6 separate regions of the Homo sapiens genome follow, and all the other regions are reported to be linked to region 6. The links are microRNA targets in miRTarBase. Many come from high-throughput screens and were not tested one by one. Region 6 holds a microRNA gene; each other region holds the end of a gene's coding sequence.
What was found. The annotated mature microRNA hsa-miR-6823-5p reads UCAGGGUUGGUAGGGGUUGCU and lies in region 6 at 2,669-2,689, shown strand. An mRNA with a match to its seed (bases 2 to 7 or 8) in the 3' UTR can be bound and repressed. Matches are read on the target gene's strand: a 7mer-m8 pairs with bases 2 to 8, a 7mer-A1 pairs with bases 2 to 7 and ends in A, and an 8mer does both.

Region 1: miRTarBase lists CTCFL as a target of hsa-miR-6823-5p. The part of its 3' UTR that is shown has no 7-base or 8-base seed match.
Region 2: the mRNA of KLHL8 is a reported target of hsa-miR-6823-5p. Seed matches in the 3' UTR shown: 7mer-A1 at 584-590, 7mer-m8 at 2,094-2,100 and 7mer-m8 at 2,611-2,617.
Region 3: miRTarBase lists ATP1A2 as a target of hsa-miR-6823-5p. Seed matches in the 3' UTR shown: 7mer-m8 at 1,860-1,866 and 7mer-m8 at 2,126-2,132.
Region 4: miRTarBase lists LARP1 as a target of hsa-miR-6823-5p. Seed matches in the 3' UTR shown: 7mer-m8 at 1,021-1,027.
Region 5: miRTarBase lists TRIOBP as a target of hsa-miR-6823-5p. Seed matches in the 3' UTR shown: 7mer-m8 at 2,052-2,058 and 7mer-A1 at 1,041-1,047.

The regions. Positions count from the first base shown.
Region 1 is chr20:57,495,168-57,499,255 of GRCh38, reverse strand. CTCFL (CCCTC-binding factor like) reads left to right here. Exons shown (of 11, transcript NM_001386993.1): 11 at 555-2,090. The coding sequence ends at 706. Among named protein-coding and RNA genes, the nearest start is that of CTCFL, 28 kb to the left of the region's middle. RefSeq lists an enhancer at 346-395.
Region 2 is chr4:87,159,775-87,163,848 of GRCh38, reverse strand. KLHL8 (kelch like family member 8) reads left to right here. Exons shown (of 10, transcript NM_020803.5): 10 at 207-3,746. The coding sequence ends at 330. Among named protein-coding and RNA genes, the nearest start is that of KLHL8, 59 kb to the left of the region's middle.
Region 3 is chr1:160,140,502-160,144,589 of GRCh38, forward strand. ATP1A2 (ATPase Na+/K+ transporting subunit alpha 2) reads left to right here. Exons shown (of 23, transcript NM_000702.4): 23 at 793-3,090. The coding sequence ends at 821. Among named protein-coding and RNA genes, the nearest start is that of ATP1A4, 9.1 kb to the right of the region's middle.
Region 4 is chr5:154,813,444-154,817,531 of GRCh38, forward strand. LARP1 (La ribonucleoprotein 1, translational regulator) reads left to right here. Exons shown (of 19, transcript NM_033551.3): 19 at 444-4,088. The coding sequence ends at 653. Among named protein-coding and RNA genes, the nearest start is that of MIR378H, 14 kb to the right of the region's middle.
Region 5 is chr22:37,772,137-37,776,224 of GRCh38, reverse strand. It overlaps TRIOBP (TRIO and F-actin binding protein), which reads right to left. Exons shown (of 24, transcript NM_001039141.3): 23 at 3,461-3,624; 24 at 1-2,442. The coding sequence ends at 3,463. Among named protein-coding and RNA genes, the nearest start is that of H1-0, 31 kb to the left of the region's middle.
Region 6 is chr3:48,548,597-48,552,684 of GRCh38, reverse strand. It overlaps MIR6823 (microRNA 6823), which reads left to right and starts at 2,664; the gene lies at 2,664-2,724. PFKFB4 (6-phosphofructo-2-kinase/fructose-2,6-biphosphatase 4) reads left to right here. Exons shown (of 14, transcript NM_004567.4): 2 at 2,451-2,567; 3 at 2,725-2,821. RefSeq lists enhancers at 1-263, 264-927, 928-1,589, 1,590-2,253.

The sequences.
Region 1 (4,088 bases), not on the chromosome of region 6:
CAACTGGCTTTCTTCATGTAGGCAGCATCATTACATGGGTACTGGGACAAGACTTAGGTGAGCAGCTCAGCCACAATATAAATCTCTGAGATCCGCCTCGATATAAATCTGTAAGATCCACATTCACCTATAGCAGCTGATGCCAGCTGGGAATGACTGTGTCCCCCCCCCACCCCCCCCCCGTCACCTTCAGGGGACACTGGCAATGTCTGGAGACATTTTTATGGTTTTTGCAGCTGGAGAGGAGGGTGCTACTGGCATCTAGTGGTAGAGGCCAGGGTCGCTGCTAACATCCTACAGTGCCCAGAACAGCGCCCTGCCCCCAGCAGACAGCTCTCTGGCCCCAAACGTCTGTAGCGCTGAGGCTAAGAAGCCCTGACTGAAGGCAGTAGTTGAGATCAGAATAGTACCATCTTATCAATTAGATTGTTTTCTAACATGCTTGCTGCCGTGTTCAAATTTAAGTGATGGTTTCCAAAATATATTTGCACAGTTTATAAATTCCAATTCCTTAGCTTTCTGATAAATTTGCTCATCCTGGACTTTTTCTCAAGAAGCTGCTGCTGAGGAGGCTTCCACCACGAAGGGAGAACAGTTCCCAGGAGAGATGTTTCCTGTCGCCTGCAGAGAAACCACAGCCAGAGTCAAAGAGGAAGTGGATGAAGGCGTGACCTGTGAAATGCTCCTCAACACGATGGATAAGTGAGAGGGATTCGGGTTGCGTGTTCACTGCCCCCAATTCCTAAAGCAAGTTAGAAGTTTTTAGCATTTAAGGTGTGAAATGCTCCTCAACACGATGGATAAGTGAGAGAGAGTCAGGTTGCATGTTCACTGCCCCTAATTCCTAAAGCAAGTTAGAAATTTTTAGCATTTTCTTTGAAACAATTAAGTTCATGACAATGGATGACACAAGTTTGAGGTAGTGTCTAGAATTGTTCTCCTGTTTGTAGCTGGATATTTCAAAGAAACATTGCAGGTATTTTATAAAAGTTTTAAACCTTGAATGAGAGGGTAACACCTCAAACCTATGGATTCATTCACTTGATATTGGCAAGGTGGCCCACAATGAGTGAGTAGTGATTTTTGGATATTTCAAAATAGTCTAGACCAGCTAGTGCTTCCACAGTCAAAGCTGGACATTTTTATGTTGCATTATATACACCCATGATATTTCTAATAATATATGGTTTTAAACATTAAAGACAAATGTTTTTATACAAATGAATTTTCTACAAAATTTAAAGCTACCATAATGCTTTTAATTAGTTCTAAATTCAACCAAAAAATGTTTTACTCTTATAAAAAGGAAAACTGAGTAGGAAATGAAATACTAGATTAGACTAGAAAATAAGGAATAAATCGATTTTACTTTGGTATAGGAGCAAGGTTCACCTTTAGATTTTTGTATTCTCTTTTAATTATGCTCCTTGGCAGGTATGAAATTGCCCTGGTTACATTCCATTATTGCTTATTAGTATTTCACTCCATAACCCTTTTTTCTGCTAAAACTACTCTTTTTATATTTGTAAAATAATTGGCAGAGTGAGAAGAAACATAAAATCAGATAAGGCAAATGTGTACCTGTAAGGAATTTGTACTTTTTCATAATGCCCAGTGATTAGTGAGTATTTCCCTTTTGCCAGTTGACAAGATTTTTCCACCCTCGAGCAGCGTGAGAGATGCCTCTTTAACACTTGAAATTCATTTCTATCTGGATACAGAGGCAGATTTTTCTTCATTGCTTAGTTGAGCAGTTTGTTTTGCTGCCAACCTGTCTCCACCCCTGTATTTCAAGATCATTGATAAGCCCTAAATTCAAATTCTTAAGATATGGACCTTTTATTGAAAATATCACAAGTTCAGAATCCCTATACAATGTGAATATGTGGAAATAATTTCCCAGCAGGAAGAGCATTATATTCTCTTTGTACCAGCAAATTAATTTAACTCAACTCACATGAGATTTAAATTCTGTGGGCTGTAGTATGCCATCATTGTGACTGAATTTGTGCAATGGTTTCTTAATTTTTTTACTGTTATTTAAAGATGTTTTACATAATTCAATAAAATGAAATGACTTAAAATTGCTATATTTGTTATATGTCAGCATTGGTCTTTAAAAACATCTTCTTTGTCTGGAGAGAATGTGGAGAAATTGGAACCGTTGTGCACTGTTGGTGGGAATGTTAAATGGTGCAGCCACTGGGGAAAGCAGTATGGCAGTTTCTCAAAAAAAAAAAAAAAAAAATGGAAATAGCATTAGTATCTGACCCACCAATCCCACTTCCAGATATACCGTATACCCAGAAGAACTAAAAGCAGAGTCTGAAAGAGGTATTTGCACACCTATGTTCATAGCAGCATTTTTCAAAATAGTCAAAGATGAAAACAACCCAAATTCCATGGACGGGTGAATGGGTAAACAAAATGTGGTATATACATGCAGTGGAATATTATGTAGCCTTCAAAAGGAGGGAGACCCTCACACATGCTACAACATGGGGGAACCTTGAGGACGTTATGCTGAGTGAAATCAGCTAGTCACAAAAGGACAAGTATTATATGATCTTACTTATAGGAGGTATCTAGAACAGTCAGAGTCATAGAGACAGACGGTAAAGTGATGTTTGCCAAGCACTGAGGGGTGAGGGAGAATGGAGAGTTAGTGTTTAGTGGACACAGTTTATTTGGGATGAAGAAAGAGTTCTGGAGATCAGTCATGGTGATGGCCACACAACAGTGTGAATCTACCTAATCATTCCACTGAACCATACATTTAAAAATAGCTAAAATGGTAAATTTTATGTTGTGTTAGTCCTTTCTCACATTGCTATAAAGAAATACCTGAAACTGGGTAATTTATAAAGAAAAGAGTTTTAATTGACTCATAGTTCCGCAGGCTGTACAGGAAGGATGATGTTGGTATCTGCCTGGCTTCTGGGGAGGCCTCAGGAAACTTACAATCAAGGCAGAAGGCGAAGAGGGAGTAGGCGCGTCACATGGTGAAAGCAGGAGCGAGAGAGGGGGAGGCGCCACACTCCTCTGAACGACCAGATTCCTTGAGAACCGCCACTGTCATGAGGACAGCACCAAGCGGATGGTGCTAAATCATTCCTAAGAAACCGCCCCCGTGATCCAGTCACCTCCTACCAGGCCCCACCTCCAACACTGGGGATTACAATTCAACATGAGCTTTGGCCAGGGACAAATATCCAAACTATATCATGTATTTTACTACAACCAAATGTATGTTAATTTCAAAAACAGATAACATAAATATGTTTGAAAACGCAAGCCAAGTTGGTATCTAAACACTGTTTTAAATAAATAAATAAAACTCCTAGGCCGGGTGCAGTGGCTCACTCCTGTAATCCCAGCACTATGGGAGGCCGAGGCAGGTGGATGACCTGAGGTCAGGAGTTTGAGGCCAGCTTGGCCAACATAGTGAAATCCCATCTCTGTTAAAAATATAAAATTTAGCCGGGCGTGATGGCAGGTGCCTGTAATCCCAGCTACTTGGGGGGCGGAGGCAGGAGAATCACTTGAACCCGGGAGGCGGAGGTTGCAGTGAGCCGAGATTGCGCCACTGCACTCCAGCCTGGGCAATAGAGTGGGACTCCGTCTCAAGACGAAAGCTCCTATAAGCACACTTTTATAAATAGTTGCAGTGTTTCGTGTGTGCAACACCTGTTGAGATGTAGAACAAAATTCAGATGAGATGATCAATACCTACTCAGTTACGTGCGTGACTCTCACCCACACCTGGCAAGAAGGTGAAACACCTGGTCCTCAAGTGCAGTTAGTGCTTTTGATACCAAAATAGATGCAGTGACAATAGTGCCCGCAAGAGGGCAGTCGCTTCTGTCTTTTCCGATATTGAGACAGGTTCACTATTCGAGAGTAGGAAGCACGGAAAGTTATAGCAAAGTCTTGGCGATTTTATTAATTCCGCGATACAGAACGAGAACATTTTTTCCTTGGCAAGGAAGAGAAGGGACCTTTGCAAAACCTGGGAGTGAGGACACCAGTTGGCTCTGAGTTCGTGAATGCTTGGTGAGTGACATGCTTTTGCTTAAAATAGTTTTGAG
Region 2 (4,074 bases), not on the chromosome of region 6:
ATTATCTTCTGGTATAATAGTAGATTACTTCAGAGTGTTAAAATGTTGCTAGTCGTAGTTAATACTAAGCTTTGGGATATCTTATCTCCCACTGGAAGCTTGCTGTCCTACAAAACCAGTCTCACATAGGGAATTTTTGTCTTTGGTTAGTATTTTGAGTAAAGTAAATTATGCTTTGTAACATTTTTTCTTCTCCGTCTTTTCAGGTGGGAGCTTGTTGGATCTGTGTCTCACTGCAGAGCTGGAGCAGGAGTAGCTGTGTGTTCCTGTTTAACTAGCCAAATTCGAGATGTAGGTCATGGATCCAATAATGTGGTTGACTGTATGTGATTTGAGTTCTGGCCACCAACAATTTAGTCATATCTGATAGGTACAAAAGAAAACCAAGATTTTGATATGACCACCTTTCAACACTTTTTACTGCAACTAGAGTCTTATTTAAATGTTAACTGTTGTATTGTGACTAAGTACAACTTTTGGAATGATACCTGAAGAATTATTAGTAATAGAGTTAAATTTGATACTTCCTGCTTTTGCAAATAATGGAGTAGGGAAGAAGATAGTCGAACTTAAAATCATACCTACCCTGAAAAATGCTTAAAGTAGTGCCAAAAATCTTGAAATCTCTCTCTCTCTCTCTATTTGGATGAATCAAAATGTAATTTGTTGAGTTTTGCCTTTTCTTTTGCCTAAAGATGTTAACGTCAGGCAGTGGGTTTTTCCTAGAGGAGAGATTAGTACCTATTCATTAACACAAGGATACATAAGAGACTTGCCCCTTTTGAAGATCATTTCTACTTGGTGCTGATGAATTTATGCCTAGCTTTTTTTTTCTAGGTGGTGATTTTTCAATTTCTTTTATATTTACGGAAGTAGAAAAAATGTTCTGTCTTTTTGAATGCCACTTAGCTGCATTTTCAGAAGCTTATAGGCTATAAGAAGCCTTTAATTTCAGTTTGAATTGCTAGGACACCAAAAGACCTAGCTGGGCTAACTCCATCCAAATGATTTTACAGTTTTATTTTTTCATCTTTTGCAAAAAGTATTTGTTACATAATCAAAAGGTGAACCAGAGGAAATATTGAACAAGGTTTTAGATCTGATGTTATTCTGGTGCCCAATTGAGAGACCTTGAGAAAGAATGATGCAGATTACATGACTCTAATGTGGGCAGTCTGAAAATATCTTTAACTGTCTTCTTTGATCATTTGATTTTGGATCCAAGATTTATCATCTCTCTATTTTGCTATTTGCCACCATCCTGGTTTTTCTGACTGTACAGAATCAATCTGCATTTATTTATTATCAGAAATGAATGCATTTTTACAAAAACCTTTTTGTAGACTGTAGTTTATTGATTAGTTCAAGCCCATCACGAACTAATTAAACATATTGTTGGTAAAAACAGAGATTGAAATTACTGTTTTTATCATATTTAAATCCCTCTGGTGTATTTATTGAAATTTAATTAAAAATATTTCTACATATTGATTTGAAGCCAGGATATTGATGGACCTACAGATTTAACAGCTCTTCAAAGTTTTAACTAGCATTATAAAATGGCCTATTCATTATATGTATATTTTTTTATAAATATTTATCAAGAACATGAAAATATTTTATTTTGTATTTGCAGTGCAGTTTGGCACCTCTCTTCCAGGCCTTCCTAAGTTTTTGTTAGTTGTGTCTTCGAATTTATTGTAGTTCACCGCTGGTCAGTAATCTGGTTCATAAGGAAGCTGGGGCAGTGAAAAACACTTCGTTGATCCATCCAGCCCTAAAGTTCATTGACTAATAGCTCATGCATCTTATTAAATGGGATTCTGGACTTCTACAATAGTGTGGAAAGCCACATCACAAAAAAAGCCACATCACAAAAAAAAGCCAGTGCCTATTGAGTATATCAAACCAAAAAAGAAAAAAAAAAGTTTTAAGAGGGGTCAGGCTGGCAGATAAAAGTCTCTTATGAAGCAGATATAAATCCAGTAAGCTATTTTTTTCTACCTATGGGCAAGTTCATAAGTCATTGCTGGATCTGAACCAGTGTTCTTTTGTGTAAGTACAACCATATTTCAGTCAGTCCAGAGGCAGTTAACCCTGTAGCACTTACTAGACTGGTGACAACTGGCTGGATGTGGAGAATAAGTGTCAAAACCTGGCTTCAATGTCTATTTCTTATGTCTAATGGAGTTCTTATATTACAGTGTTTGTTTAGCTATGGTTACTAATATGTTTGTTATATTTATTTTCGGGGAGAGGATCTTGTTATTGTTTCCTGAGATTATTTAAAATGTTTTTTCTTTGATGTATTTCTGTCTTTCTTATATGTAAGGAGTTATAAGGGTTATTATATTTTCATTTCTGGTTTTTACTATACAATGGTTATCTAACATACTAAGTTGGTACCCTACCTACCCGTAAAATATGAAATACTCAGAAGTAAAGTGTGTGGGCAATCAGAAGCATAGCCTTGAAGGACCTGACAGCAGTATGAAAAGATAAATAGGCCAGGCATGGTGGCTCACGCCTGTGATCCCAGCACTTTGGGAGGCCGAGGTGGGTGGACCACCTGAGATCAGGTGTTCAAGACCAGCCTGACCAACATGGTGAAACCCTGTCTCTACTAAAAGTACAAAAATTAGCCAGGCGTGGTGGCGCATACCTGTAATTCCAGCTACTCAGGAGGCTGAGGCAGGAGAATTGCTTGAACCCAGGAGGTGGAGGTTGCAATGAGCCGAGGTTGAGCCATCGCACTCCAGCGGTGAAACAAGAGTGAAACTCCATCTCAAAAAAAAAAAAAAAAAAAAGATAAAAAAGCAGAATCAATATGTGCACAGTTCTCTTTATCAGGCAAAAACACGTTTATTGAGACATGAAATGAGAATCAGGCTGAAGGAATCATGCAGCTGAAAGATGATTATATTCATAGAAATGAAGAGATGAAATATTCAAAGAAGATGGCTACTTTATTGTGAGACTTACCACTTTAACCTCATATGTTAACAGCACCTACCAAAAAATGATATGAGATAGAGCTAAAATACTGAAATTGCAAATGGACAAAATAAATCATGAAAATTTGTTTATTATTTCTTCAATAAATATTTCTAGGTGCTTTGTGATTCTTTCATTTAGTCATTAAAGCCATTGCTTTACTATATTGCGTTGCCACTTTAAAAACAAGTTACTTGACATTGTTTTTGACAGATTTCACTATATACTTATGTAATTAATTGATTATTTCTAAAATGTTTGAATAAACTTTGTACTCCCTCTAAGGAGTATTTTATTCATTCTTTTAATTCCCAAATGAACTTTGAACTTACAGTGCTGTTGAATGCCTTGGTAAGGACTTCTTGAAATTGCATAAACTATTCTTGTAAATGGTAAACTTGAGAATTTTCTTTGTTTCTTTTTTCTCTATGTCTTAAAGAATGCCTTTAGAATCTAATTCATGTTGTATCAGTTAAGAATGTTTCTGTGGTTTCTCGTATCAGATGTGTAAAGAAATTATTACTGGGATGCCATTGGCTATGTCTCTTTCCCCTTCATGTAAAATTCCAAGTGTCAGTAAAACTTCTCTATAATATTTTCTTAAAACCATTTATAAATTTGTGTTATAATACTCCAGAAAATCAATGTAATAAGTGGTCATATATATCACCAACTATGGATATCAAAAAGTTGGGGTCACATCAGTGCTATTTATTTAATTAAAATACATTGCATATTTCTATTAGCACAAACTTCTCTCTAAAAGGTCTGTGTAACTGCTTCTCATCATTATTTGATTGCTGTTATGGGATCCTGTCAAAACTGTGTAATTGTTTATTCTCCATTCCTCAAATACAAAATTGAGTAGGTTGGCTATATTTTTCTCCTTATATGAAGGATCTTTATGTTTAACTGAAAATTTTAGAAAGCTTTTCGTTTTCCCTTATGAAAATTAAAGGTTGAAGGTAACTGATGTAAGTAGTTTCACTGATCTTAAGCAGTTGTCTCTTCAGTAATTGCAGACTTGTACTATATAGAAATGAGACTATGCATTAGGATGACTGTTGTCCTTCCAAGTAG
Region 3 (4,088 bases), not on the chromosome of region 6:
TGTGCCATATTTTGTGTGTGTGGGGGGAGGAGGGTGGATTAATTGGTCCGATATAGAAAATTTAGGGTCTTTCACATAAAATCTGAATTCGACTTCTCCTGAAGATCAGAAGAGCTGTTAATCCCATGTCCACATCTCTGCACAGCAAGAATGGACAGCTGCTCCCTTAGACTCTCGTTCGTCACCTGAAGAGGCCCTGTGGGCGTTTGCATTTTCACCCTCGACCTATTCTGCCCCAGCCTCCAATGTGCTAAATACAAGTCTCCCCTAAAGGCAGGTTCACCCTCCCTTCCTTTAACCTATGGCCCCAGCTCACTGGACCTCCTTCTCCTCCCTTTCACCTTCTTTTTTTTTTTTTTTTTTTTTTTTTTTTTGAGACGGAGTCTCGCTCTGTCGCCCAACCAGGAGTGCAGTGCAGTGGCACGATCTCGGCTCACTGCAAGCTCCGCCTCCTGGGTTCAAGCAATTCTCTTGCCTCAGCCTCCAGAGTAGCTGGGATTGCAGGCGCATGCCACTATGCCCGACTAATTTTTTGTATTTTTAGTACAGACAGGGTTTCACTGGGTTAGCCAGGAGTCTTGATCTCCGCCTGCCTCAGCCTCCCAGTATGCTGGGATTACAGGCATGAGCCACTGCACCCAGCCTCCTTCCACCTTCCTAAGCCACTTCCCCCAGTGCCCTTCACCAGGCTTCTCCTTCCACCTGGCTTCAGCGACCCAAGCCCCTAGGAAATTGATCTCTTGCCTCCTTTTAAGCTCATGCTGCAATCTCCACTCCCAATCTCTCTAACAGGCTGGGTGGAGAAGGAGACATACTACTGACCCCATTGGAAGAAGAACCAGGCATGGAAAGATGGGGAGCTCTGGAGGTGTTGTGGGGATGGTGATGGAGAGGGATGGAAATAACGGGTGGCATTGGGTGGCAACATTTGGGGAGAGATAATGAGGCAACTCAGCAGGCTAAGTTGCGGGGTATATAAATTGGGGTGATGACCCCATAGACCTAACTGTGAACAATCAGATTAGACACTATGTGTTAGAGTCCCCCCGACCAGATCCTTTTCCATCCCACTCCACTATGTTGTCTATTTTTTCTGAGGAATTAAGGGTTACCCCACCCTGCCCACTCCCATCCCTTCAACCCCACTTCCTACTGTAATAGATCAGCATCCAAAAGCAGGAACCCATCTAAACCAGAAGGAAGCCCTCTCAGATCACCCCAGCCTCACTCCATTTCCCACTTCCACCCCCGTTAGCTTCCTGCAGGACTCTATCCCTGGCTTCCCCTTCAGACCTTGCAATCACAAAAGGTTCTTCTGGTGAGTGCAAGAGCCTGAGACTGGAAAAGGTGGACTTGTCTCCCAGTCGAGGCTGGTAAGGGACCTTCAGGGAGAGCTGGGCAGACAGGTGGGAGATGGAGGTAGGGCTGGCTGGAGGAAGGAAACAACAAAGGAAGTGAGGTAGTGCCAATGACAGGACATTTGACATGAGTCTCCAGATAGATGTCGTGGACTCCAGCTCTACGTCCCACATTTTAGAATACCCCACCAGCAGAACAAACTCAGATCTCATCAGGGTAGCAGCAGAGGCAGGACCAGAAGGCAATCAAGAGCTTCCAGAAATGCCACACTTGTGTGCCACAGAGTTCCCCGCTGACCCTTGGTTAGGGGTCCTCTTAGTCCACAAGGTCCGGATGTCACTCATGTACTTAATAACACTTCACCTTCTGTAATACTAAGTCCTCAGAGCTCCATGCTGTTCTGAAAGGGATGGCCACAAGTTCTTTCCCAGCCTCTTCCATTCCCTTTCTTTTCATGCCCATCCCGATGAACCTGCATCATTCCCCGACACTGCCAAGCCAACCCTGGAAAAGGAGTTCGCTGGCCATTGGCTAGAATCAGGGTGGAGAAGTTCCCTGAACCTTCCTGTCTCCCAGGGACATGTATGCTTCCAGGGACAAGCTTAGGTCATGAACATGGTCAGAACCTTTGGACAAGAGGAAAAATACTAAGAGATTTGCTTTTTCTGGGTGCGGTGGCTCATGCCTGTAATCCCAGCACTTTGGGAGGCCGAGGCAGGTGGATCATGAGGTCAGGAGTTCGAGGCGAGCCTGGCCAACATGGTGAAACCCTGTCTCTACTAAAAGTACAAAAAATTAGCCAGTCATGGTGGCACACGCCTGTAATCTCAGCTACTCAGGAGGCTGAGGCAGGAGAATTGCTTGAACCTGTGAGGAAGAGGTTGCAGTGAGCTGAGATCGTGCCATTACACTCCAGCCTGGGCGAAAGGGTGAGACTCCATCTCAAAAAAAAAAAAAATGATTTGCTTTTGACGTCTTAGGTGGCAGGGCTGTTCCCTCCAGGCAAATGCCCTTCAAACCGACGATCATTGTGCCCACTTACCCTGGGCTGGAGAGTTGGTTTCAGGTTCCTACAGGAGATAGCTTTCTTTCCCTTACTCCCTATCTAACACTTTTGCTCTGCAGGCAGCCTTGCCCATTCTCTAAGCCTGGCTTAGAAGGCACTGGGAATGTCCTGTAGAGAGAGACCTAGATAGGTCATGCAAGTGAGAAAGACATCTGAGGAAAATGGAAGACCTAAGGCAGACAGGAAGGAAGCACAAAAGACAAGCATTGGGTCAGACCCATAAACCACCTCCCAAAGGCTGTCATTTCATTGCACTGGAATTTTGCTTTATCAGAAGCAAGGAAGTAAGGGAGTCATTGCCTTGGGCCTGGGAATCTAAGTGGGAGACAATATTAATTTGGATCCGATTAATTGGAGATTACTAACTGTGGACAAAAGTTTATCTTTGCACAATCAATAAAAATGGCATTTTTTTAGTAAATTAAGAGCATAAACAATATTGCTAGAGGTGGCATGTTTAGTCTACCAAAAACAATACTTTTCAGGCACTTTAGAAATATCCTTTTAGAAGCAGCGAGTGCATGGGCTAATTATCATCAATCTTTATGTATTTGTTAAAGAAACATCTACAGGATCTTTATTGGTGACCTTTTGTAAGACATTAGTTTGAGGTACTACCTATGTACTTGAAAATAATAAAGTGGCATTTCTTTATGAAAAAAAAAGAAATCTCTTCCATAATTCAGATTTCTACACTTTATACTTGCCTCCCTCCTAAATCGTGATATTGAAATATGTGCTGTGGCAGAACTCGGCTTGTAGGGAAAGCAACAAAGAGATAGCAAGTGTCAGGGATGGGAGGGAAATGGTCTGGGAGCAGATGATGTCCGTGGAGAAAGCAAGAGGGGAAGAAGTTAGGTTGCAAAATAACCTACAAGAAACTATAGCAGGAGCCTCCTTCCTCATGCTGATCCCACCCTAAGAGCCACAAGAGTTTGTCCAGGACAGGGAGGGGCCTGTGAGTCTATTAAGAACAAGATCCTCAGGGGCACTTCTGCTTTTTCTGTTCCAGACCAAAATCAGGCCATTCTCTATCTGATGGGATGGGGGAAGGAGATAGTGGGTTGAGGAGCCCAAGAGTCAACACCAATTCACAATCTGTACTTCATGCAGAGCTTTGTCCTGGGTGCTCTCTTTAAGGGGTGGGGGTAAAGTGGATGCAATCCTTGAAATTCACCTGAGTAGTAGACATCAGAAACCATCATGGACAGAATGTAATGAGCAGTAGGGGGGACGCTTGTGTGCTGGAGATGGAGGGGTGGGTGGGTGGGTGTGCATTGCTCCAGGGGGGCCCTGGGAATGGGAGAGAGAAAGACACCAACTCTTACAACCTATGCCAGGATTTCAGAATAACGGTCAGAAGTCAATTCTTGCCCAAGCCATATTGCAGCCCCTTTATTATGACTCTTAACAGTGTCATTAATGACAGTTATAGTTAGTAGTGATTATAAGAGCCTTAATCACAGCTCATTTTGTGCCATAACTATGCCAAAATTTTATTTGTATAGTCTCCGTTCATCCCACCACAGGGCCTTTATTCTTGATGGTCCCTCTGCCAGGAACACTTTTCCCTAGTTATTCACATGCCTGGCTTTGTCACTTCATTCAGATCACTCCTTAAACATCAGTAAGATCCTCACAGAGGACCTCAAATAAAATGACT
Region 4 (4,088 bases), not on the chromosome of region 6:
CTTCTGAGCTGAGACGTCGCAGCATACTGCATGCCACATTCCACATTTCTGAGCAAGAGATCCCTTCTTGGAAGGGAAGCAGAAATGAGGTTGGATAAAAGCCTGGCCTTTTGGGGCAGGTAGACCTAAATTTTGTCTTTATCGGTTACCAGCTATGAGACCCTGGGGAAGTTACTTTTTTGTGCTTCAGTTTCCTCATCTATAAAATCAGATGTCCATGGGTCCACATCAAAGGGTGATGCTGACCCCATGAGAGAGTGTGCATAAAACAGCACAAGGCTTGGCATGAAGAAACGCTTAATAACTTATAATTTATTTTTAAGGTTAAACCCATTCATTTTCTATATTTGGAGGTAGAAAGTAGGAAGTGTCTAGACGGGCCTGGCAAGGAAGAGGGCGTAGATAGTGCTTCTGATCACCTGTGACTCCTTCCTCTGTTGCAGCCCCCCATGGGTGAGGAGGGCAACCACAAGCGACACTCAGTGGTAGCAGGAGGTGGCGGCGGTGAGGGCAGGAAGCGGTGCCCCTCCCAGTCTTCCAGCAGGCCTGCTGCCATGATCAGCCAACCCCCTACACCACCCACCGGCCAGCCTGTCCGGGAAGATGCCAAATGGACAAGCCAGCACTCGAACACACAGACTTTGGGAAAGTGAAAAGCTCCTTAGCCCTGGGGCTTGAGGGGGGAAAGGGGTAGGGTGGGTAAGAGTCCATGGGGGTGCCCAGTCCCAGGAAAGGGGACAATGAAGGGACAGGCCTGGAGTTACTAGGACAGGCCTTTGTGCTGAGTAGCAATGTATACACCATTTGGGCTATCAGAGGTACCCCTGGGCAGGAGCCTCTACATCCCCTTCCCCCTCCTCTCTCCATGACTCTTGACATCCTAGCTTCTTCTAAGGGGGGAGGGAAAGGGGGGAGATTTTTATATATATATACATATATATATATCAAGTTTTAAATTATTGATAGTTCATCTGGATTACCAAAATCACTCTGCAGCCCTGCCCGAGGCTAGTAGGCTGCAACCCTGGTCCCCACCCCTAACCTCCTGCTCCCCCTCAAGCCAACTATGCAGCCCACAAGAAGGCCCTGCGGGCCCCCCCATTGCCCAGCACTGTCTCATAGAAGGCTCTGGTGGTACCTCTGGGCCCCAGGAGCATCAGCCCCTTGATCATCTGGGGTTTGTCATCACCATATTTTCTCCCTGCTGTTCCCACCATGCCCTTCTGCCATCTTCTGGGAGAAGGAAACCAAAGGATCTAAAACTGGGGTTTGGGGGAAGGTTTCAGCCTCTCCCCACTCCCCTTGCCCCACACCCTTTACTCCCCAGCCCAGAGAGACGCTGCTTTTACCAGGAAAGACTATTGAAAGATGTTTTATTTTATTTTTCTCTGACCTTTCCATCCTTGAAAAAATGGGGAAAAAAGAAGAAAAAAGACAAAATCGACCATAAAAGACCAAAAAAAAAAAAAAAATCAGAAAACCCCCACCTAATCCACAGAAAGTAATGTCTTTCCCCTCCCCTTGGAATTTTTGTTTTGTTTTTGGAAATAATATTTTTTTAAAAGTTGCCTTATTGTGGAGCGGGAATCTGAAATACCCAAATGCCTGTTTTCCTCGGTGGAGTCAACCCGAAGAGCTCCCACCTTCTCTGGATGTGCCTGGGCTTGGACTGGCTAGAATCTTTCTCTGGACTGTTGCATGTACAGTGCCTCCATCCTGGAGGCAAGAGAGTTGGGAGTGGCTCGAATCAGAGCCGTGCCCAAGATATCCCTGCTGTTGCATCGTTTGAAGCTGACGTCCTGTGTCTGTACACTGCTGCCACTGTTGTGTCCTCGCTCTGCTTGCTGTTGCCTCACGCCAGGCCCCGTCCTGCCGTGACACCCTTCATCCTACCCTTGGAACCCCAAGGCCAAGTTGGTTCAAACTGTTGGAGAACAGAGTTGGCCTGCATCTGGAACACACTTGTCCTCAGCTTACCATCTCCTCACACCCCAGAGTGGAAAGGTGAACACCTGCAGCTGAGGCTTGGAAACGTTTCTTGTGTTGCCCTGAAAAATCTTTGAGACCTCAGGGAGGCTCTGTCTCTCTTAAAAGGTGGAGAAAGATGCCATTCTCTCCCTAAGGTCTGGTGGAGTCTCCCCATCTTGCATACCCTTCTGCAAGCCATCTATCTCTGCTCACTCTCCAATTGACCCGCCTGGGAACAAGGGATGAGGAGGAGTTGGGGGCTGGGGGGAATCCTGCCAGTTGGTGAAGCCCTGTGGCAGGAAGGTATATGTGGACATAGAGTATACCTGATTCTCTTTCTTCAGCCACTGACTGCTTGGGTTGGGCTGTGAATGATAATGGAATGGCTGGAGTCTGCTGTTGTCAGAAGGCAGGGAGGGTGATGAAGGACTGACCCACATGGACTGGGATGTGTGTCGGTTATGGGCATGACTGCACGTTCACTCTCAGTGGGATCTGGGCAACATGGAGTTCATTGTCCTGTTGCTTACTTACTGCAATGTCTTTGGCCCTCCTTTTCAACTGGTTCCTCTGTTGGGCCCAAAGGTTGGGAGTAGGAGACAGTATCCCAGGCTGACAAGGGCTTGCCCTTTACCTTGGGCACCTTGTTAATTTTTAGCCTGTGCCCTTCCCCACCTTTGCCCTCCCAGTGGTTGGTATGTGGGAAGCCCATCTCAGTTCCTGTGACTTCATGTCTCAAACCAAGGATGAGCGTCTGGTCTCTGCTATGATGGTGGTATCCGAGGCCTTTCCCTGCCCAGTCTGGTGCCTGCCCCACATTGTACCGGACACTGGATTCCTGGACCCCCTTCTCCTTTCCTTTCTTTCCTTCAGGTCACGCAGCCCTGTACTGTATCCAGCACCACAGAAACCTCAGTGTTTTTCCTCTGCTGGTTTGGGGCACAAGGAAGCCTTAGGGTATGGGGAAAGGCTGTTATTACCTAGAGTTTACTCCCAGGCCAGGGGGCTGCCATCTTCTTCACAGACATCCCTGAAAGGAAGCCCCTTTGGGGCAGGGAGGTGAGGACTTCATCTCAACATCGGCTGGTGGTTGGTAGGGGAGCTTTTTCTTTTCTTTCCTTTTTTTTTGTTTTTGTTTTTGTTTTTGTTTTTGGTAACATGTTAGGAGTTAATGTTGCAAAGAGTAGTTTACATCTTCACTTTCTGAAGACACTTGAATTTAGGACCGATGTATCTGTGACAAGCATGCCAGAAGTGGCAGGGGCCATCAGGGCTAACCACTTCACACCTACCATCGTCCCATGGGGATCCAAGACCTGAGATAAAGCAACAGCCTGCCCAGATCCCTCTGTTCATCCTATCCCTTCCAAGGTTGGTCCATGCCAACATAACCTCTGGGCATCAGACATCAGCAGGTCTGTGTGCCTCAGCCCTGTTAAGGGGCAGGTTTCTCTTTAGCCCTCTTCCTGCACTTGGGAGCAAAGGCACTACCAGTAGAGAAGGGCCATCCAGCCGTGCCCCAGCCTGGACCCCTGGGGCTCAGATAGAGGTGCTGAGCCCCTGTGTCAAAGTTGTTAAATGTTTTTGTTTTGTTCCATTGTAGCTCTTTTTTTTTTTTTTTCCCCTTTCCTGGTGATTGATTTTACAAAAGAAAGTAAGCTGCTTAGAAGGCCCTGGAAGGGAAGTGAGGAGGAGGGACAAGGAAGATGACTAGTTACGGAGGGTGAGGGTTGTTTTTTGCCAAAAAGCCTGGGTAGAGTGATCTGAATTATCTGGCACCCTCCTGAATGGAACCCCAGAGTACCTCCTGTGTGGAAGGGTCCCTGGATTTTCCCTAACACCCACCCTCTCCCCCTTCAGCCATGCTGATGGCAGAGAAGATAAGAACTTGGAGCCCATTTCTCACTGGAGAGGAAAACTTGTCATCTGGCTTTGCGGAGAAGGTTCCACCTTACGCTCGTAGTACATTATCTTTACTATGTGCTAGGATATCATATTTAAAAGGACAAAAAAATGTAAAATACTTGAATGAGCTTGTATTATAACATTAATATTATTGAGAGTATCTGCTTTCCAGGCTGAAGTGATTCATTCATTATTCTAGTCCTGCTTTAGTCCTT
Region 5 (4,088 bases), not on the chromosome of region 6:
TAATGAGATGTGGAGCACCTTTCAGAGGCTGGCCTGGTTTTTGTAGCTGCCCTAGGCAGCCCTGAGGAGGGATGGGAGGGGGGTTGGTGAAGAGGATGTTCCTGCAACCCAGGTGTGAGACGGGGGAGCCCTGAGTTAGGTTGAGGCTAGAAGGGAGGCAGAGGATGGGATGGAGAGCTGTCTTGGGGGGACGGTGGGATGGTGAGGATGGACGGCAGAGCTGCCAGTGGCAGGCATCCCATCTCCCAGTGGCTAGGAACACTCCTGATCTCCTAAGGCAAGCAGTGCCGAGACAGGGCAGCACAAGGCCGGAGGATTTGATGGCACGGGGTCCTGGCTCTTTCTTCTTTGCCATTTTTAGCTATTGATGAGGGAAGATGGCGACAGGGCCAGGAGAGAGGTGTCCTCTCCTTGCGCCACCCTCCCCCTTTTTTTTTGAGATGGAGTTTCGCCCTTGTCACACAGGCTGGAGTGCAGTGGCGCGATCTTGGCTCACTGCAACTTCTGCCTCCTGGGTTCAAGTGATTCTCCTGCCTCAGCCTCCTGAGTAGCTGGGATTACAGGTGCTTGGCACCACGTCTGGCTAATTTTTTGTATTTTTAGTAGAGACGGGGTTTCACCATGTTGGCCAGGCTGGTCTCGAACTCCTGACCTCAAGTGATCCCCCTGCCTTGGCCTCCCAAAGTGCTAGGATAATAGGCAAGAGCCACCGCGCCCGGCCTCTTGTGCCTCTTTTTAAGACCAAGGACACCCTTCCCAGATGACCTCCTCCACCCCACTCCCAAGACTTCCCCTCGCATTTCACTGGCTTGCGTGAACTGCAAGCCTTGTCCATTCCTCAACCAATCCCTGGCAAGGGAATGGGAAACAATCTCTTCCCACTCCACGAGGTCACTCTCCTGTGGCTCTTTGCCTGAACACACCAGGGACGTTTGCTCCTGCTGGTGCCTCCACGTGGGAAGGCCCTTCCTGATTCTTCCATCTGGAAGAGTCATCTTTCAAAGCTGCCTCCAAAGGCAGTCTTCTACCTGCAGGCTGGGTCAGGGTCTCCTCTGGGTTCTCACAGCCTTCCAGGACCCCTACTGGATGTGGCCTGTTTCTGTGGCTCAGAAATGGGACCTCTTCCCAGCCCCATGCAACCATAATCAGCACAGCCAGCCATGGTGAGGACTCCCAGCCCGCTGGACCTGTGCCTGGCAGCCACAACCCTGCCCTCACCCCTGCCCAGGGCTGGGCATGACCTCTGGGAAAAGCCTCAGGAGAGGACTGGGACTGAAAGAAAAACACCCATTTGATGGAGAAGCAAACTGAGGCTCAGTGAGGGGTGTGACTTGCCCAAGGTCATGGTCAGGGCTAGTCTTAGCCCCAGGCCTCTCTCTCAGGCCTGGGCCCTGGGCCCTACTCCAGGGCTCCTCAGACTTTGAAGGTCACGTGAATCACTGGGGCACCCTGTTAAAATGCAGACGCTGGTTCAGTAGGTTGGGGTGGGACTGGACTTGCTATTTCCCACATGCTTCCGCTGCCACTAGCCTGCAAGCCACACTGGGGGCGTCACAGTCTGTACTAAGGGAGACCTTGGATTTTCAGCCCCACCCTCAGAAGCCTAGAGGCCGCTGCTTTAGGAAGGGTGGGGTGTGGGTAGGGTGTGAGTGGGGAAGCCACTTCAAGAAACCCCAATCTCCATTCCTGTTCTGCCAGCCATCTAGGACACCAGAGCTGCTGGAACGTTTTATTAAGTTAAGAGGTTCAGGGAGCAGAAGAGAAACACCTTTTGGGTGGCTCTGGCGGTTCTGCACCCAGCACAGCCTCGAAGGAGGCTGTGGGGCCATGGAGGCCAGCTGCTAGCTCCCTCTGTCCTGAGCCCCATGGTACGGGTCCAAATGGGGCAGGAAGTGTTAGTAGGAGGTAGGGCAGGAAGAGGGTGGCAGGCTCCCGCCTCTCCCCTGTAGAGACACCCCGCCATGGCTGCTGCCTGGGCCTCCGCCAGACCTCTGGGCCAGGGCCACCAGCTCAGAAGCCCAAGCAGAGGGTGGCTGGAGACAGAGGGGGACCAGGGTTGGAGGCACACAGCCACCAGGAATTGCTTTTTTTTTTTTTTTTTAAAGTATAAAGTGTTTTGGAAAAAAAGGAAAAAAATCTATATAAAAATCTCTTCACATATAAAATCCTGAAGAAGGTGCAAGGTGAGACCCAGTGCGAGGGGCGCGCTCAGATATGCAGTGTGTGTGTGTGTGTGTGTATCCGTGTGTACATGTGTGCACGTGTGTGCGTATGTGTCTGTGTGTCTGTGTGTGTGTGTGTGTGTGTGTGTGTGTGTGTGGTGGGTGCAAGTGCACGTGTGGCCCACAGAGGGTGGGGAGAAAGCTTGGCTTTTTACTTCCATCCAGGAGGGAAGGAGGGCGGCTGGTCCTCCAGCCTGGAGGGTCTGCAGCTGGGCGGGACCTGAAAGACAAGGTGCGGCAGGGCTGAGGCCTGGGCTGAGGGGCTGCGAGGCCACCCCAAGGCCAAGCAAGGGTGCTGAGTGGGTCCTTCCACCACCTCTCAGCCCCTAAGGTACAGCCAGATCCGCTCTTCCTGGCTCCTTCCCAAGCAGCTCAGCCATAGGGTGGCCTCTCCTGCATGCCATAGGAAGTCCATGAGGACTTATCAGAAAGAGGATGCTCCAGGTAGATGTGGCGTTGAAAAAGCAAAAATAAGAACACTTTGGCCAGGTGCAGCGGCTCACACCTGTAATCTCAGAATTTTGGGAGGCTGAGGCAGGTGTATTGCTTGAGCCCAGGAGTTCGAGACCAGCCTGGGAAATCACGGCGAAACCCCACCTATACAAAAAGTGCAAAAATTATCTGGGCATGGTGGTGAGGGCCTGTGGTCCCAGCTACTCAGAAGGCTGAGGTGGGAGGATCCCTTGAGCCTAGGAGGTTGAGGCTGCAGTGAGCCGTGATTGCACCACTGCACTCCAGCCTGGGTGTCAGAGTAAGACCTTTCTCAAAGCAACCAAAACCAACCAACCAACCAACCAACCAACCAACCAACCAACCAACCAACCACTTTGAGCCCTGCTAAGTCAAGAAGGAGTGTTAAGACTAACTGGGATAGAAGCCCGGCCTCAGCGTGCGATGTGTGTGTGTGAAGCTCAGTGGAGATTCACTGTGGGGGTCAGGGATGTGCACGCTGCATTTGCCTCCAGCCCCAAGAAGGGGGGTGCACTGAGTAGGCTGTGGCTCTGCACTGTGCCGCCCAGCTCTGGAGGAACAGGCTTAAGCTGATGAAGCAGCCTGTGGCCCGGGTCTGATGGGATCTCTGCAACAACCCCGTGTTGCTGGTTTCATTGTCCTTTTTACAGAACGGGAATTGGAGGCCAGAAGAAGGAAGTGGCCTGGCTGGGGTGGTCCAGGGAGTCCCGGGTGTGGGAGAGCCTCAGCCCCTGCCCACCCTGCAGGGCACACGCCTCGGCATCCACCTCTACTCAGCCAGGCTGTTGCGCATCGACTCCTTCTCCTGGAGGGCGGCCATGGCAAGACGCAGGTGCTCCTTCAGCTGCTCGATCTCCCGCTCAGACCGTGTCTTGATGTGGCTCAGCTCCACATAGACGTCCTGGTACTTTCCCGAGGTGAAGCGCTTGTCCTGGGGGGCAGGAGGCAGGTATGAGGGCATGAAGTCTCTCCCTCCAGCCCTGCCAACCGGGCACATGGGCAGCACCAGCAGCCAGACCTCCCCGCAGATACCTCGCTTCATCCCTCCAGGTGGCTCCCCAAGATGGCCGTGGGTTCTGGGCTTACCCCTCCCACCTCCCTGGTACCACCCAGGGACACAGGCGTCATTGTCATCCTCATCCTGTTTCGGGGGAGAAGATTTTGACCAAGACCGCAGGGCAGTGAGTGGCTGGGATGAGAACCAGGTCAGCCTGGCTGGGTGCTCGGGCCCTTCCTGTGAGTTCACGCCACCTGTTCTTCAAGTGCGGTAAACACGGTCTGGCTCACGTGCACTTACAGAGCCACCAACATGTCCACTTCCTGCCCCAAACTGACAGAGCGCACCAGGCAGTGACATAGCAGCCAAGGGTGGGCCAGGCGGGCTGCAGACTCAGA
Region 6 (4,088 bases):
AGGGTAGATGCAGGATTTCCTCCTGCTTAGCAGCTGTCGCACTGCCCTTGGTTGCTTGAGAGCCCGGCCACCTGGCCGGGAACTATGCAAACAATGCACAATGCGGGCCTCAGCTGTCCACCGGCCCTGAGGAGGCAAGGCCTTGCCTAACTTGTTTTCCTCTCACCTTAGCTAATACTGAGAGTTCTCTGCAAGTTTCTCCACTCTCACTCAGTCAGCCTGTTTCATGGGGTCTCCTCCTTCCCGCCCCTGAGGCTCACCATTTGGGTCACCTTTAAACAAGGGGAATGCACAGGAGTGATGGAGCCCCCACTGGCAAGCAAGGCCCTTTGTTTCTCTGCAGGGCCTGCCTGGGGCCAGGCCACCGCCTCCATGCCCTGAGTCCCAAGGGCAGTCGGTGCCGAGGTACACCTATGGCTTTAGCTCAGTATCCGCCAGGGTAGGACAGAGGGCACAGCTTCCCAGAAGTGCCCAGGCTCTTGGATAGCACTAGGCTTCTCTGAGGGATGACTGCCCCATTTTACAGCTGGGGACACCGAGGCTCAGAGTTCCCAATGAGTGTCAGACTCAAGATGGCAACCCAGGCCTGACTCCTGATCCCCTGCGGAAGTGCTTCTGGGGCCTCTGTGCTCTGAGGGAAACAACTTGTTGGTGGGGACAGTCTGTCTAGGCAACCAGGTGAAGGCACTTGCAGAACCAAGAAGAGGGGCAGTGACAGGTCCCCACATCTGTTCATCTGCCTGTCTGCTATGGTTTTACCTGACCCAGGTCCTAAGGATGAGGAAAAGGAAGCTTCCTGAGGCTTCTGACGTGAGACCGCGTTTGATGGCACTGGAAACTGAGCTGAGGGCTGGGCTCACGCCTGTAATCCCAGCACTTTGGGAGGACGAGGCAGGCAGATCACCTGAGGTCAGGAATTCGAGACCAGCCTGACTAACATAATGAAATCCTGTCTCTACTGAAAATACAAAAATTAGCCAGGTGTGGTGGCATGTGCTTGTAATCCCAGCTACTTGAGAGGCTGAGGCACGAGAATTGCTTGAGCCCGGGAGGCAGAGGTTGCAGTGAGCTGGGTACCAGTGTCCTCCAGCACTCCAGCCTGGGCAAGGGCGACAGAGCGAGACTCCCTCTCAAAAAAAAAAAAAAAAAAAAAAAAAAAAAAAAAGAAGGCTGGAGGTGATGGCTCACACCTGTAATCCCAGCACTTTGGGAGGCCCAGGCAGTCGGATCACCTGAGGTCAGGAGTTTTGAGACCAGCCTGACCAACATGCCGAAACCCCGTCTCTACTGAAAATACAAAAATTAGCCAGGTGTGGTGGCAGGTGTCTGTAATCCTAGATACTTGGGAGGCTGAGGCAGGAGAATCGCTTGAACCTGGGAGGCAGAGGTTGCAGTGAGCCAAGATCGCACCACTGCCCTCCAGCCTGGGCAACAGAGTGAGACTCCGTCTCAAAAAAAAAAAAAAAAAAAGAAAAGTGAGCTAGGTCCCATAAGATGAAGCTGGCAGTTCTGCTGCCTTGGTATCTGTTCTAGCCAGCTGGGAATATAGGGGGCTGTATTCAGATCCTTCCGTGCCTCTAGCCTGGCATCTTCTCTGGCTGGCACACTGACCTGTGGCACATGGATGGTGGTGGGTGGGCTATCAGAGGGACTGTCCTTGTGGGCATCAGTCTGGGTCTCTGGTCTCAACCCCTTGTGGTCCTTACCCTGAGAGACTTCTAGATGCCTCCCTCCCTGATCCTGCCCACAGTTCCTGAGCACCAGCGCTGTGCCAGGCCCCAGGGCCCTAAAGGGCTCAGATACCACAGGGCTTCTTCTGCTGTAAGTGATCAGTCTAGAGAGAAGAGTGTCATTAGTGAGGTGACCAGGATTGAGGGTGAGGGGTGTTCCCGGTGGCCATGGAGATGCCTTGGGGAAAGGACTCATTGAGGAAGTGACTTTTTAGCTGGGCTTTGTATGATGAAAAGAAGTTCACCACAGGGAGGGCATGCAGTGGGGCTATGTGTTCTGGGAGCACTGAGTGATGGATGGGGTGGGAGAGATGTAAAAAGGTTAGGGTATGGATTCCTGGATGACAGAGGCAGGGTGTTGATTACCCTGCTGGGTTTTGGTCCTGTCCTTCATGCGGTGGGGACCCCCCTAGCCATGTTTAGCCAGTGGCAAGTTCGGTTGACTTTATGCCTGGTGGTGCACATCAGGATGAAAAGGGCTGGAGAGATCCCACTGTGTCTGCCAGAGCCCAGGCGGGCCTGGGGAAGGGGGACATGCCAACGGTGGCTTGAAACCAGCATCTGGGGCCACTCCAGGAGCTGTGTGGGGATGCTAGGAAGCCAAGAAGATACGTCTGATGCCAGTCCCATGCCCTGAGGCTGAGAGACCACAGGCTGAGAGGGAGGGGTGCGCTGGGAGGGTCCCAGCCCTCATCTGACACTGTGCTGCTTGCCTTTTAGTGTGCATGACCAACTGCCCAACTCTCATTGTCATGGTGGGCCTGCCCGCCAGGGGCAAGACCTACATCTCCAAGAAGCTGACTCGATACCTGAACTGGATTGGTGTGCCCACTCGGGGTGAGGCTTGGCCCCAGCTGTCTAAGGGGAGCTTTGTGGGGCATGACGAAGAGAATAGAGAAGGCCTATTCTCTATTATTTGGCCTGGGGTTGGGTCAAGGTCAGGGTTGGTAGGGGTTGCTGTTGCTGTGAAAGCTGAGCCTCTCCTTCCCTCCAGAGTTCAATGTTGGCCAGTATCGCCGGGACGTGGTCAAGACCTACAAATCTTTTGAATTTTTTCTCCCCGACAATGAAGAGGGCCTGAAAATCAGGAAGTAAGTATATGTGTTGGGTGTGGGGGGAGAGGTTGCTGGGGGACCCAGTGTGGAGAAAGCTAACACATTACTGACCATTTACTGAGAAGCCCCTGGAGTGGAGCTGCTGGTGAATGACTGAGCTACTCCTGAGCCCTGGCCTTGCCCAGCCCTGATGGCTGTGTGACAGGGCTGTGTGACAAGGCTGGTCTCTGGATCTCTCAGGATGTGGTGGGGGTGGGAGGTGATGGGTTTGGGGATGAGAGGAGAGGGTGTGTTGTGTGGCCTCCTGGTGGCTGGGCCATTCCTGCCCTGGGGTTAAGGAACCCTTGGGAAGGACAGAGCTTCAGGGAGGTAAGAGGGGCTCAGCCCATGCAGGTCGTTGGAGCTGCTGCCTGGAGGTCACGCTCGCTCACCCCAGCGCCCCGTGGGGATGGCTGCTGCTGGGGAAGGGAACCTGAGTGAGTGCAGGCATACAGGCCTTAGGGATGGAGCTGGGGGTGGGGGGCTTCCTCCCTTGCCCCAGGATAAGCTCTCTCCTGTGTATTTGGAGCATGTTCTTGGTGTGTGATTGCTGGTGCGATTGGCTTTGCATTGACATCTCCTAGATGCTGCTGGGTGAGTCGTTCACACTTCTGCTGTTACTCTGGAGATAGAAATATGTATATGCTACCGCCCCACCCTCAACAACTTTCAGACTTGAACTGAGTCCTTTCTTCAAGGAACTGAGCACCAGCTGGTGGTCTGAGCAGCCATGCTGTGCTTTTCTCAGGAGGTGTTAGCTGTGGTCTTGAGAAGCCCCTTATCAACCTAGGGTGGCAGAGACTTGCTCTTGGCCCAGCCATCAGGATAGGGCAGTGAGCAGAGGTTGACCCAGCTCTAGTGACTTCCCCAAATCAAGCCCAGTGGCTACCAGGCTGCCACTGGGGTCCACACTAGGCTACCCGTTCCTTCTCTGGCCACCAGGGGGCAGGAACTCCCTGCTGTGGGGCTTGGACCTTCAGACTGGAGACTGCCTTTGTTCTTGCATCGGTGTGGCTGGGCCAGGCTGTGGCACCAAGAAGGGAAGGGGAGCCTGATATTCAGGTTTCTATGGCCAAATTGTGGGTAAAAATCAAGGCTGGACCCTCTGGTTATATTGAGCCAGATAAAAAGTAGAGGACTAATGTCTGAACCTACCGTGTGCTGGGTTCTTGATGCCCATTGTCACCCCCTACTTTTACAGATGAGGAAACTGAGGCTCAGACAGGCCAGGAGTCTCGCACAAAATAGCAAGTTTACATCAGCG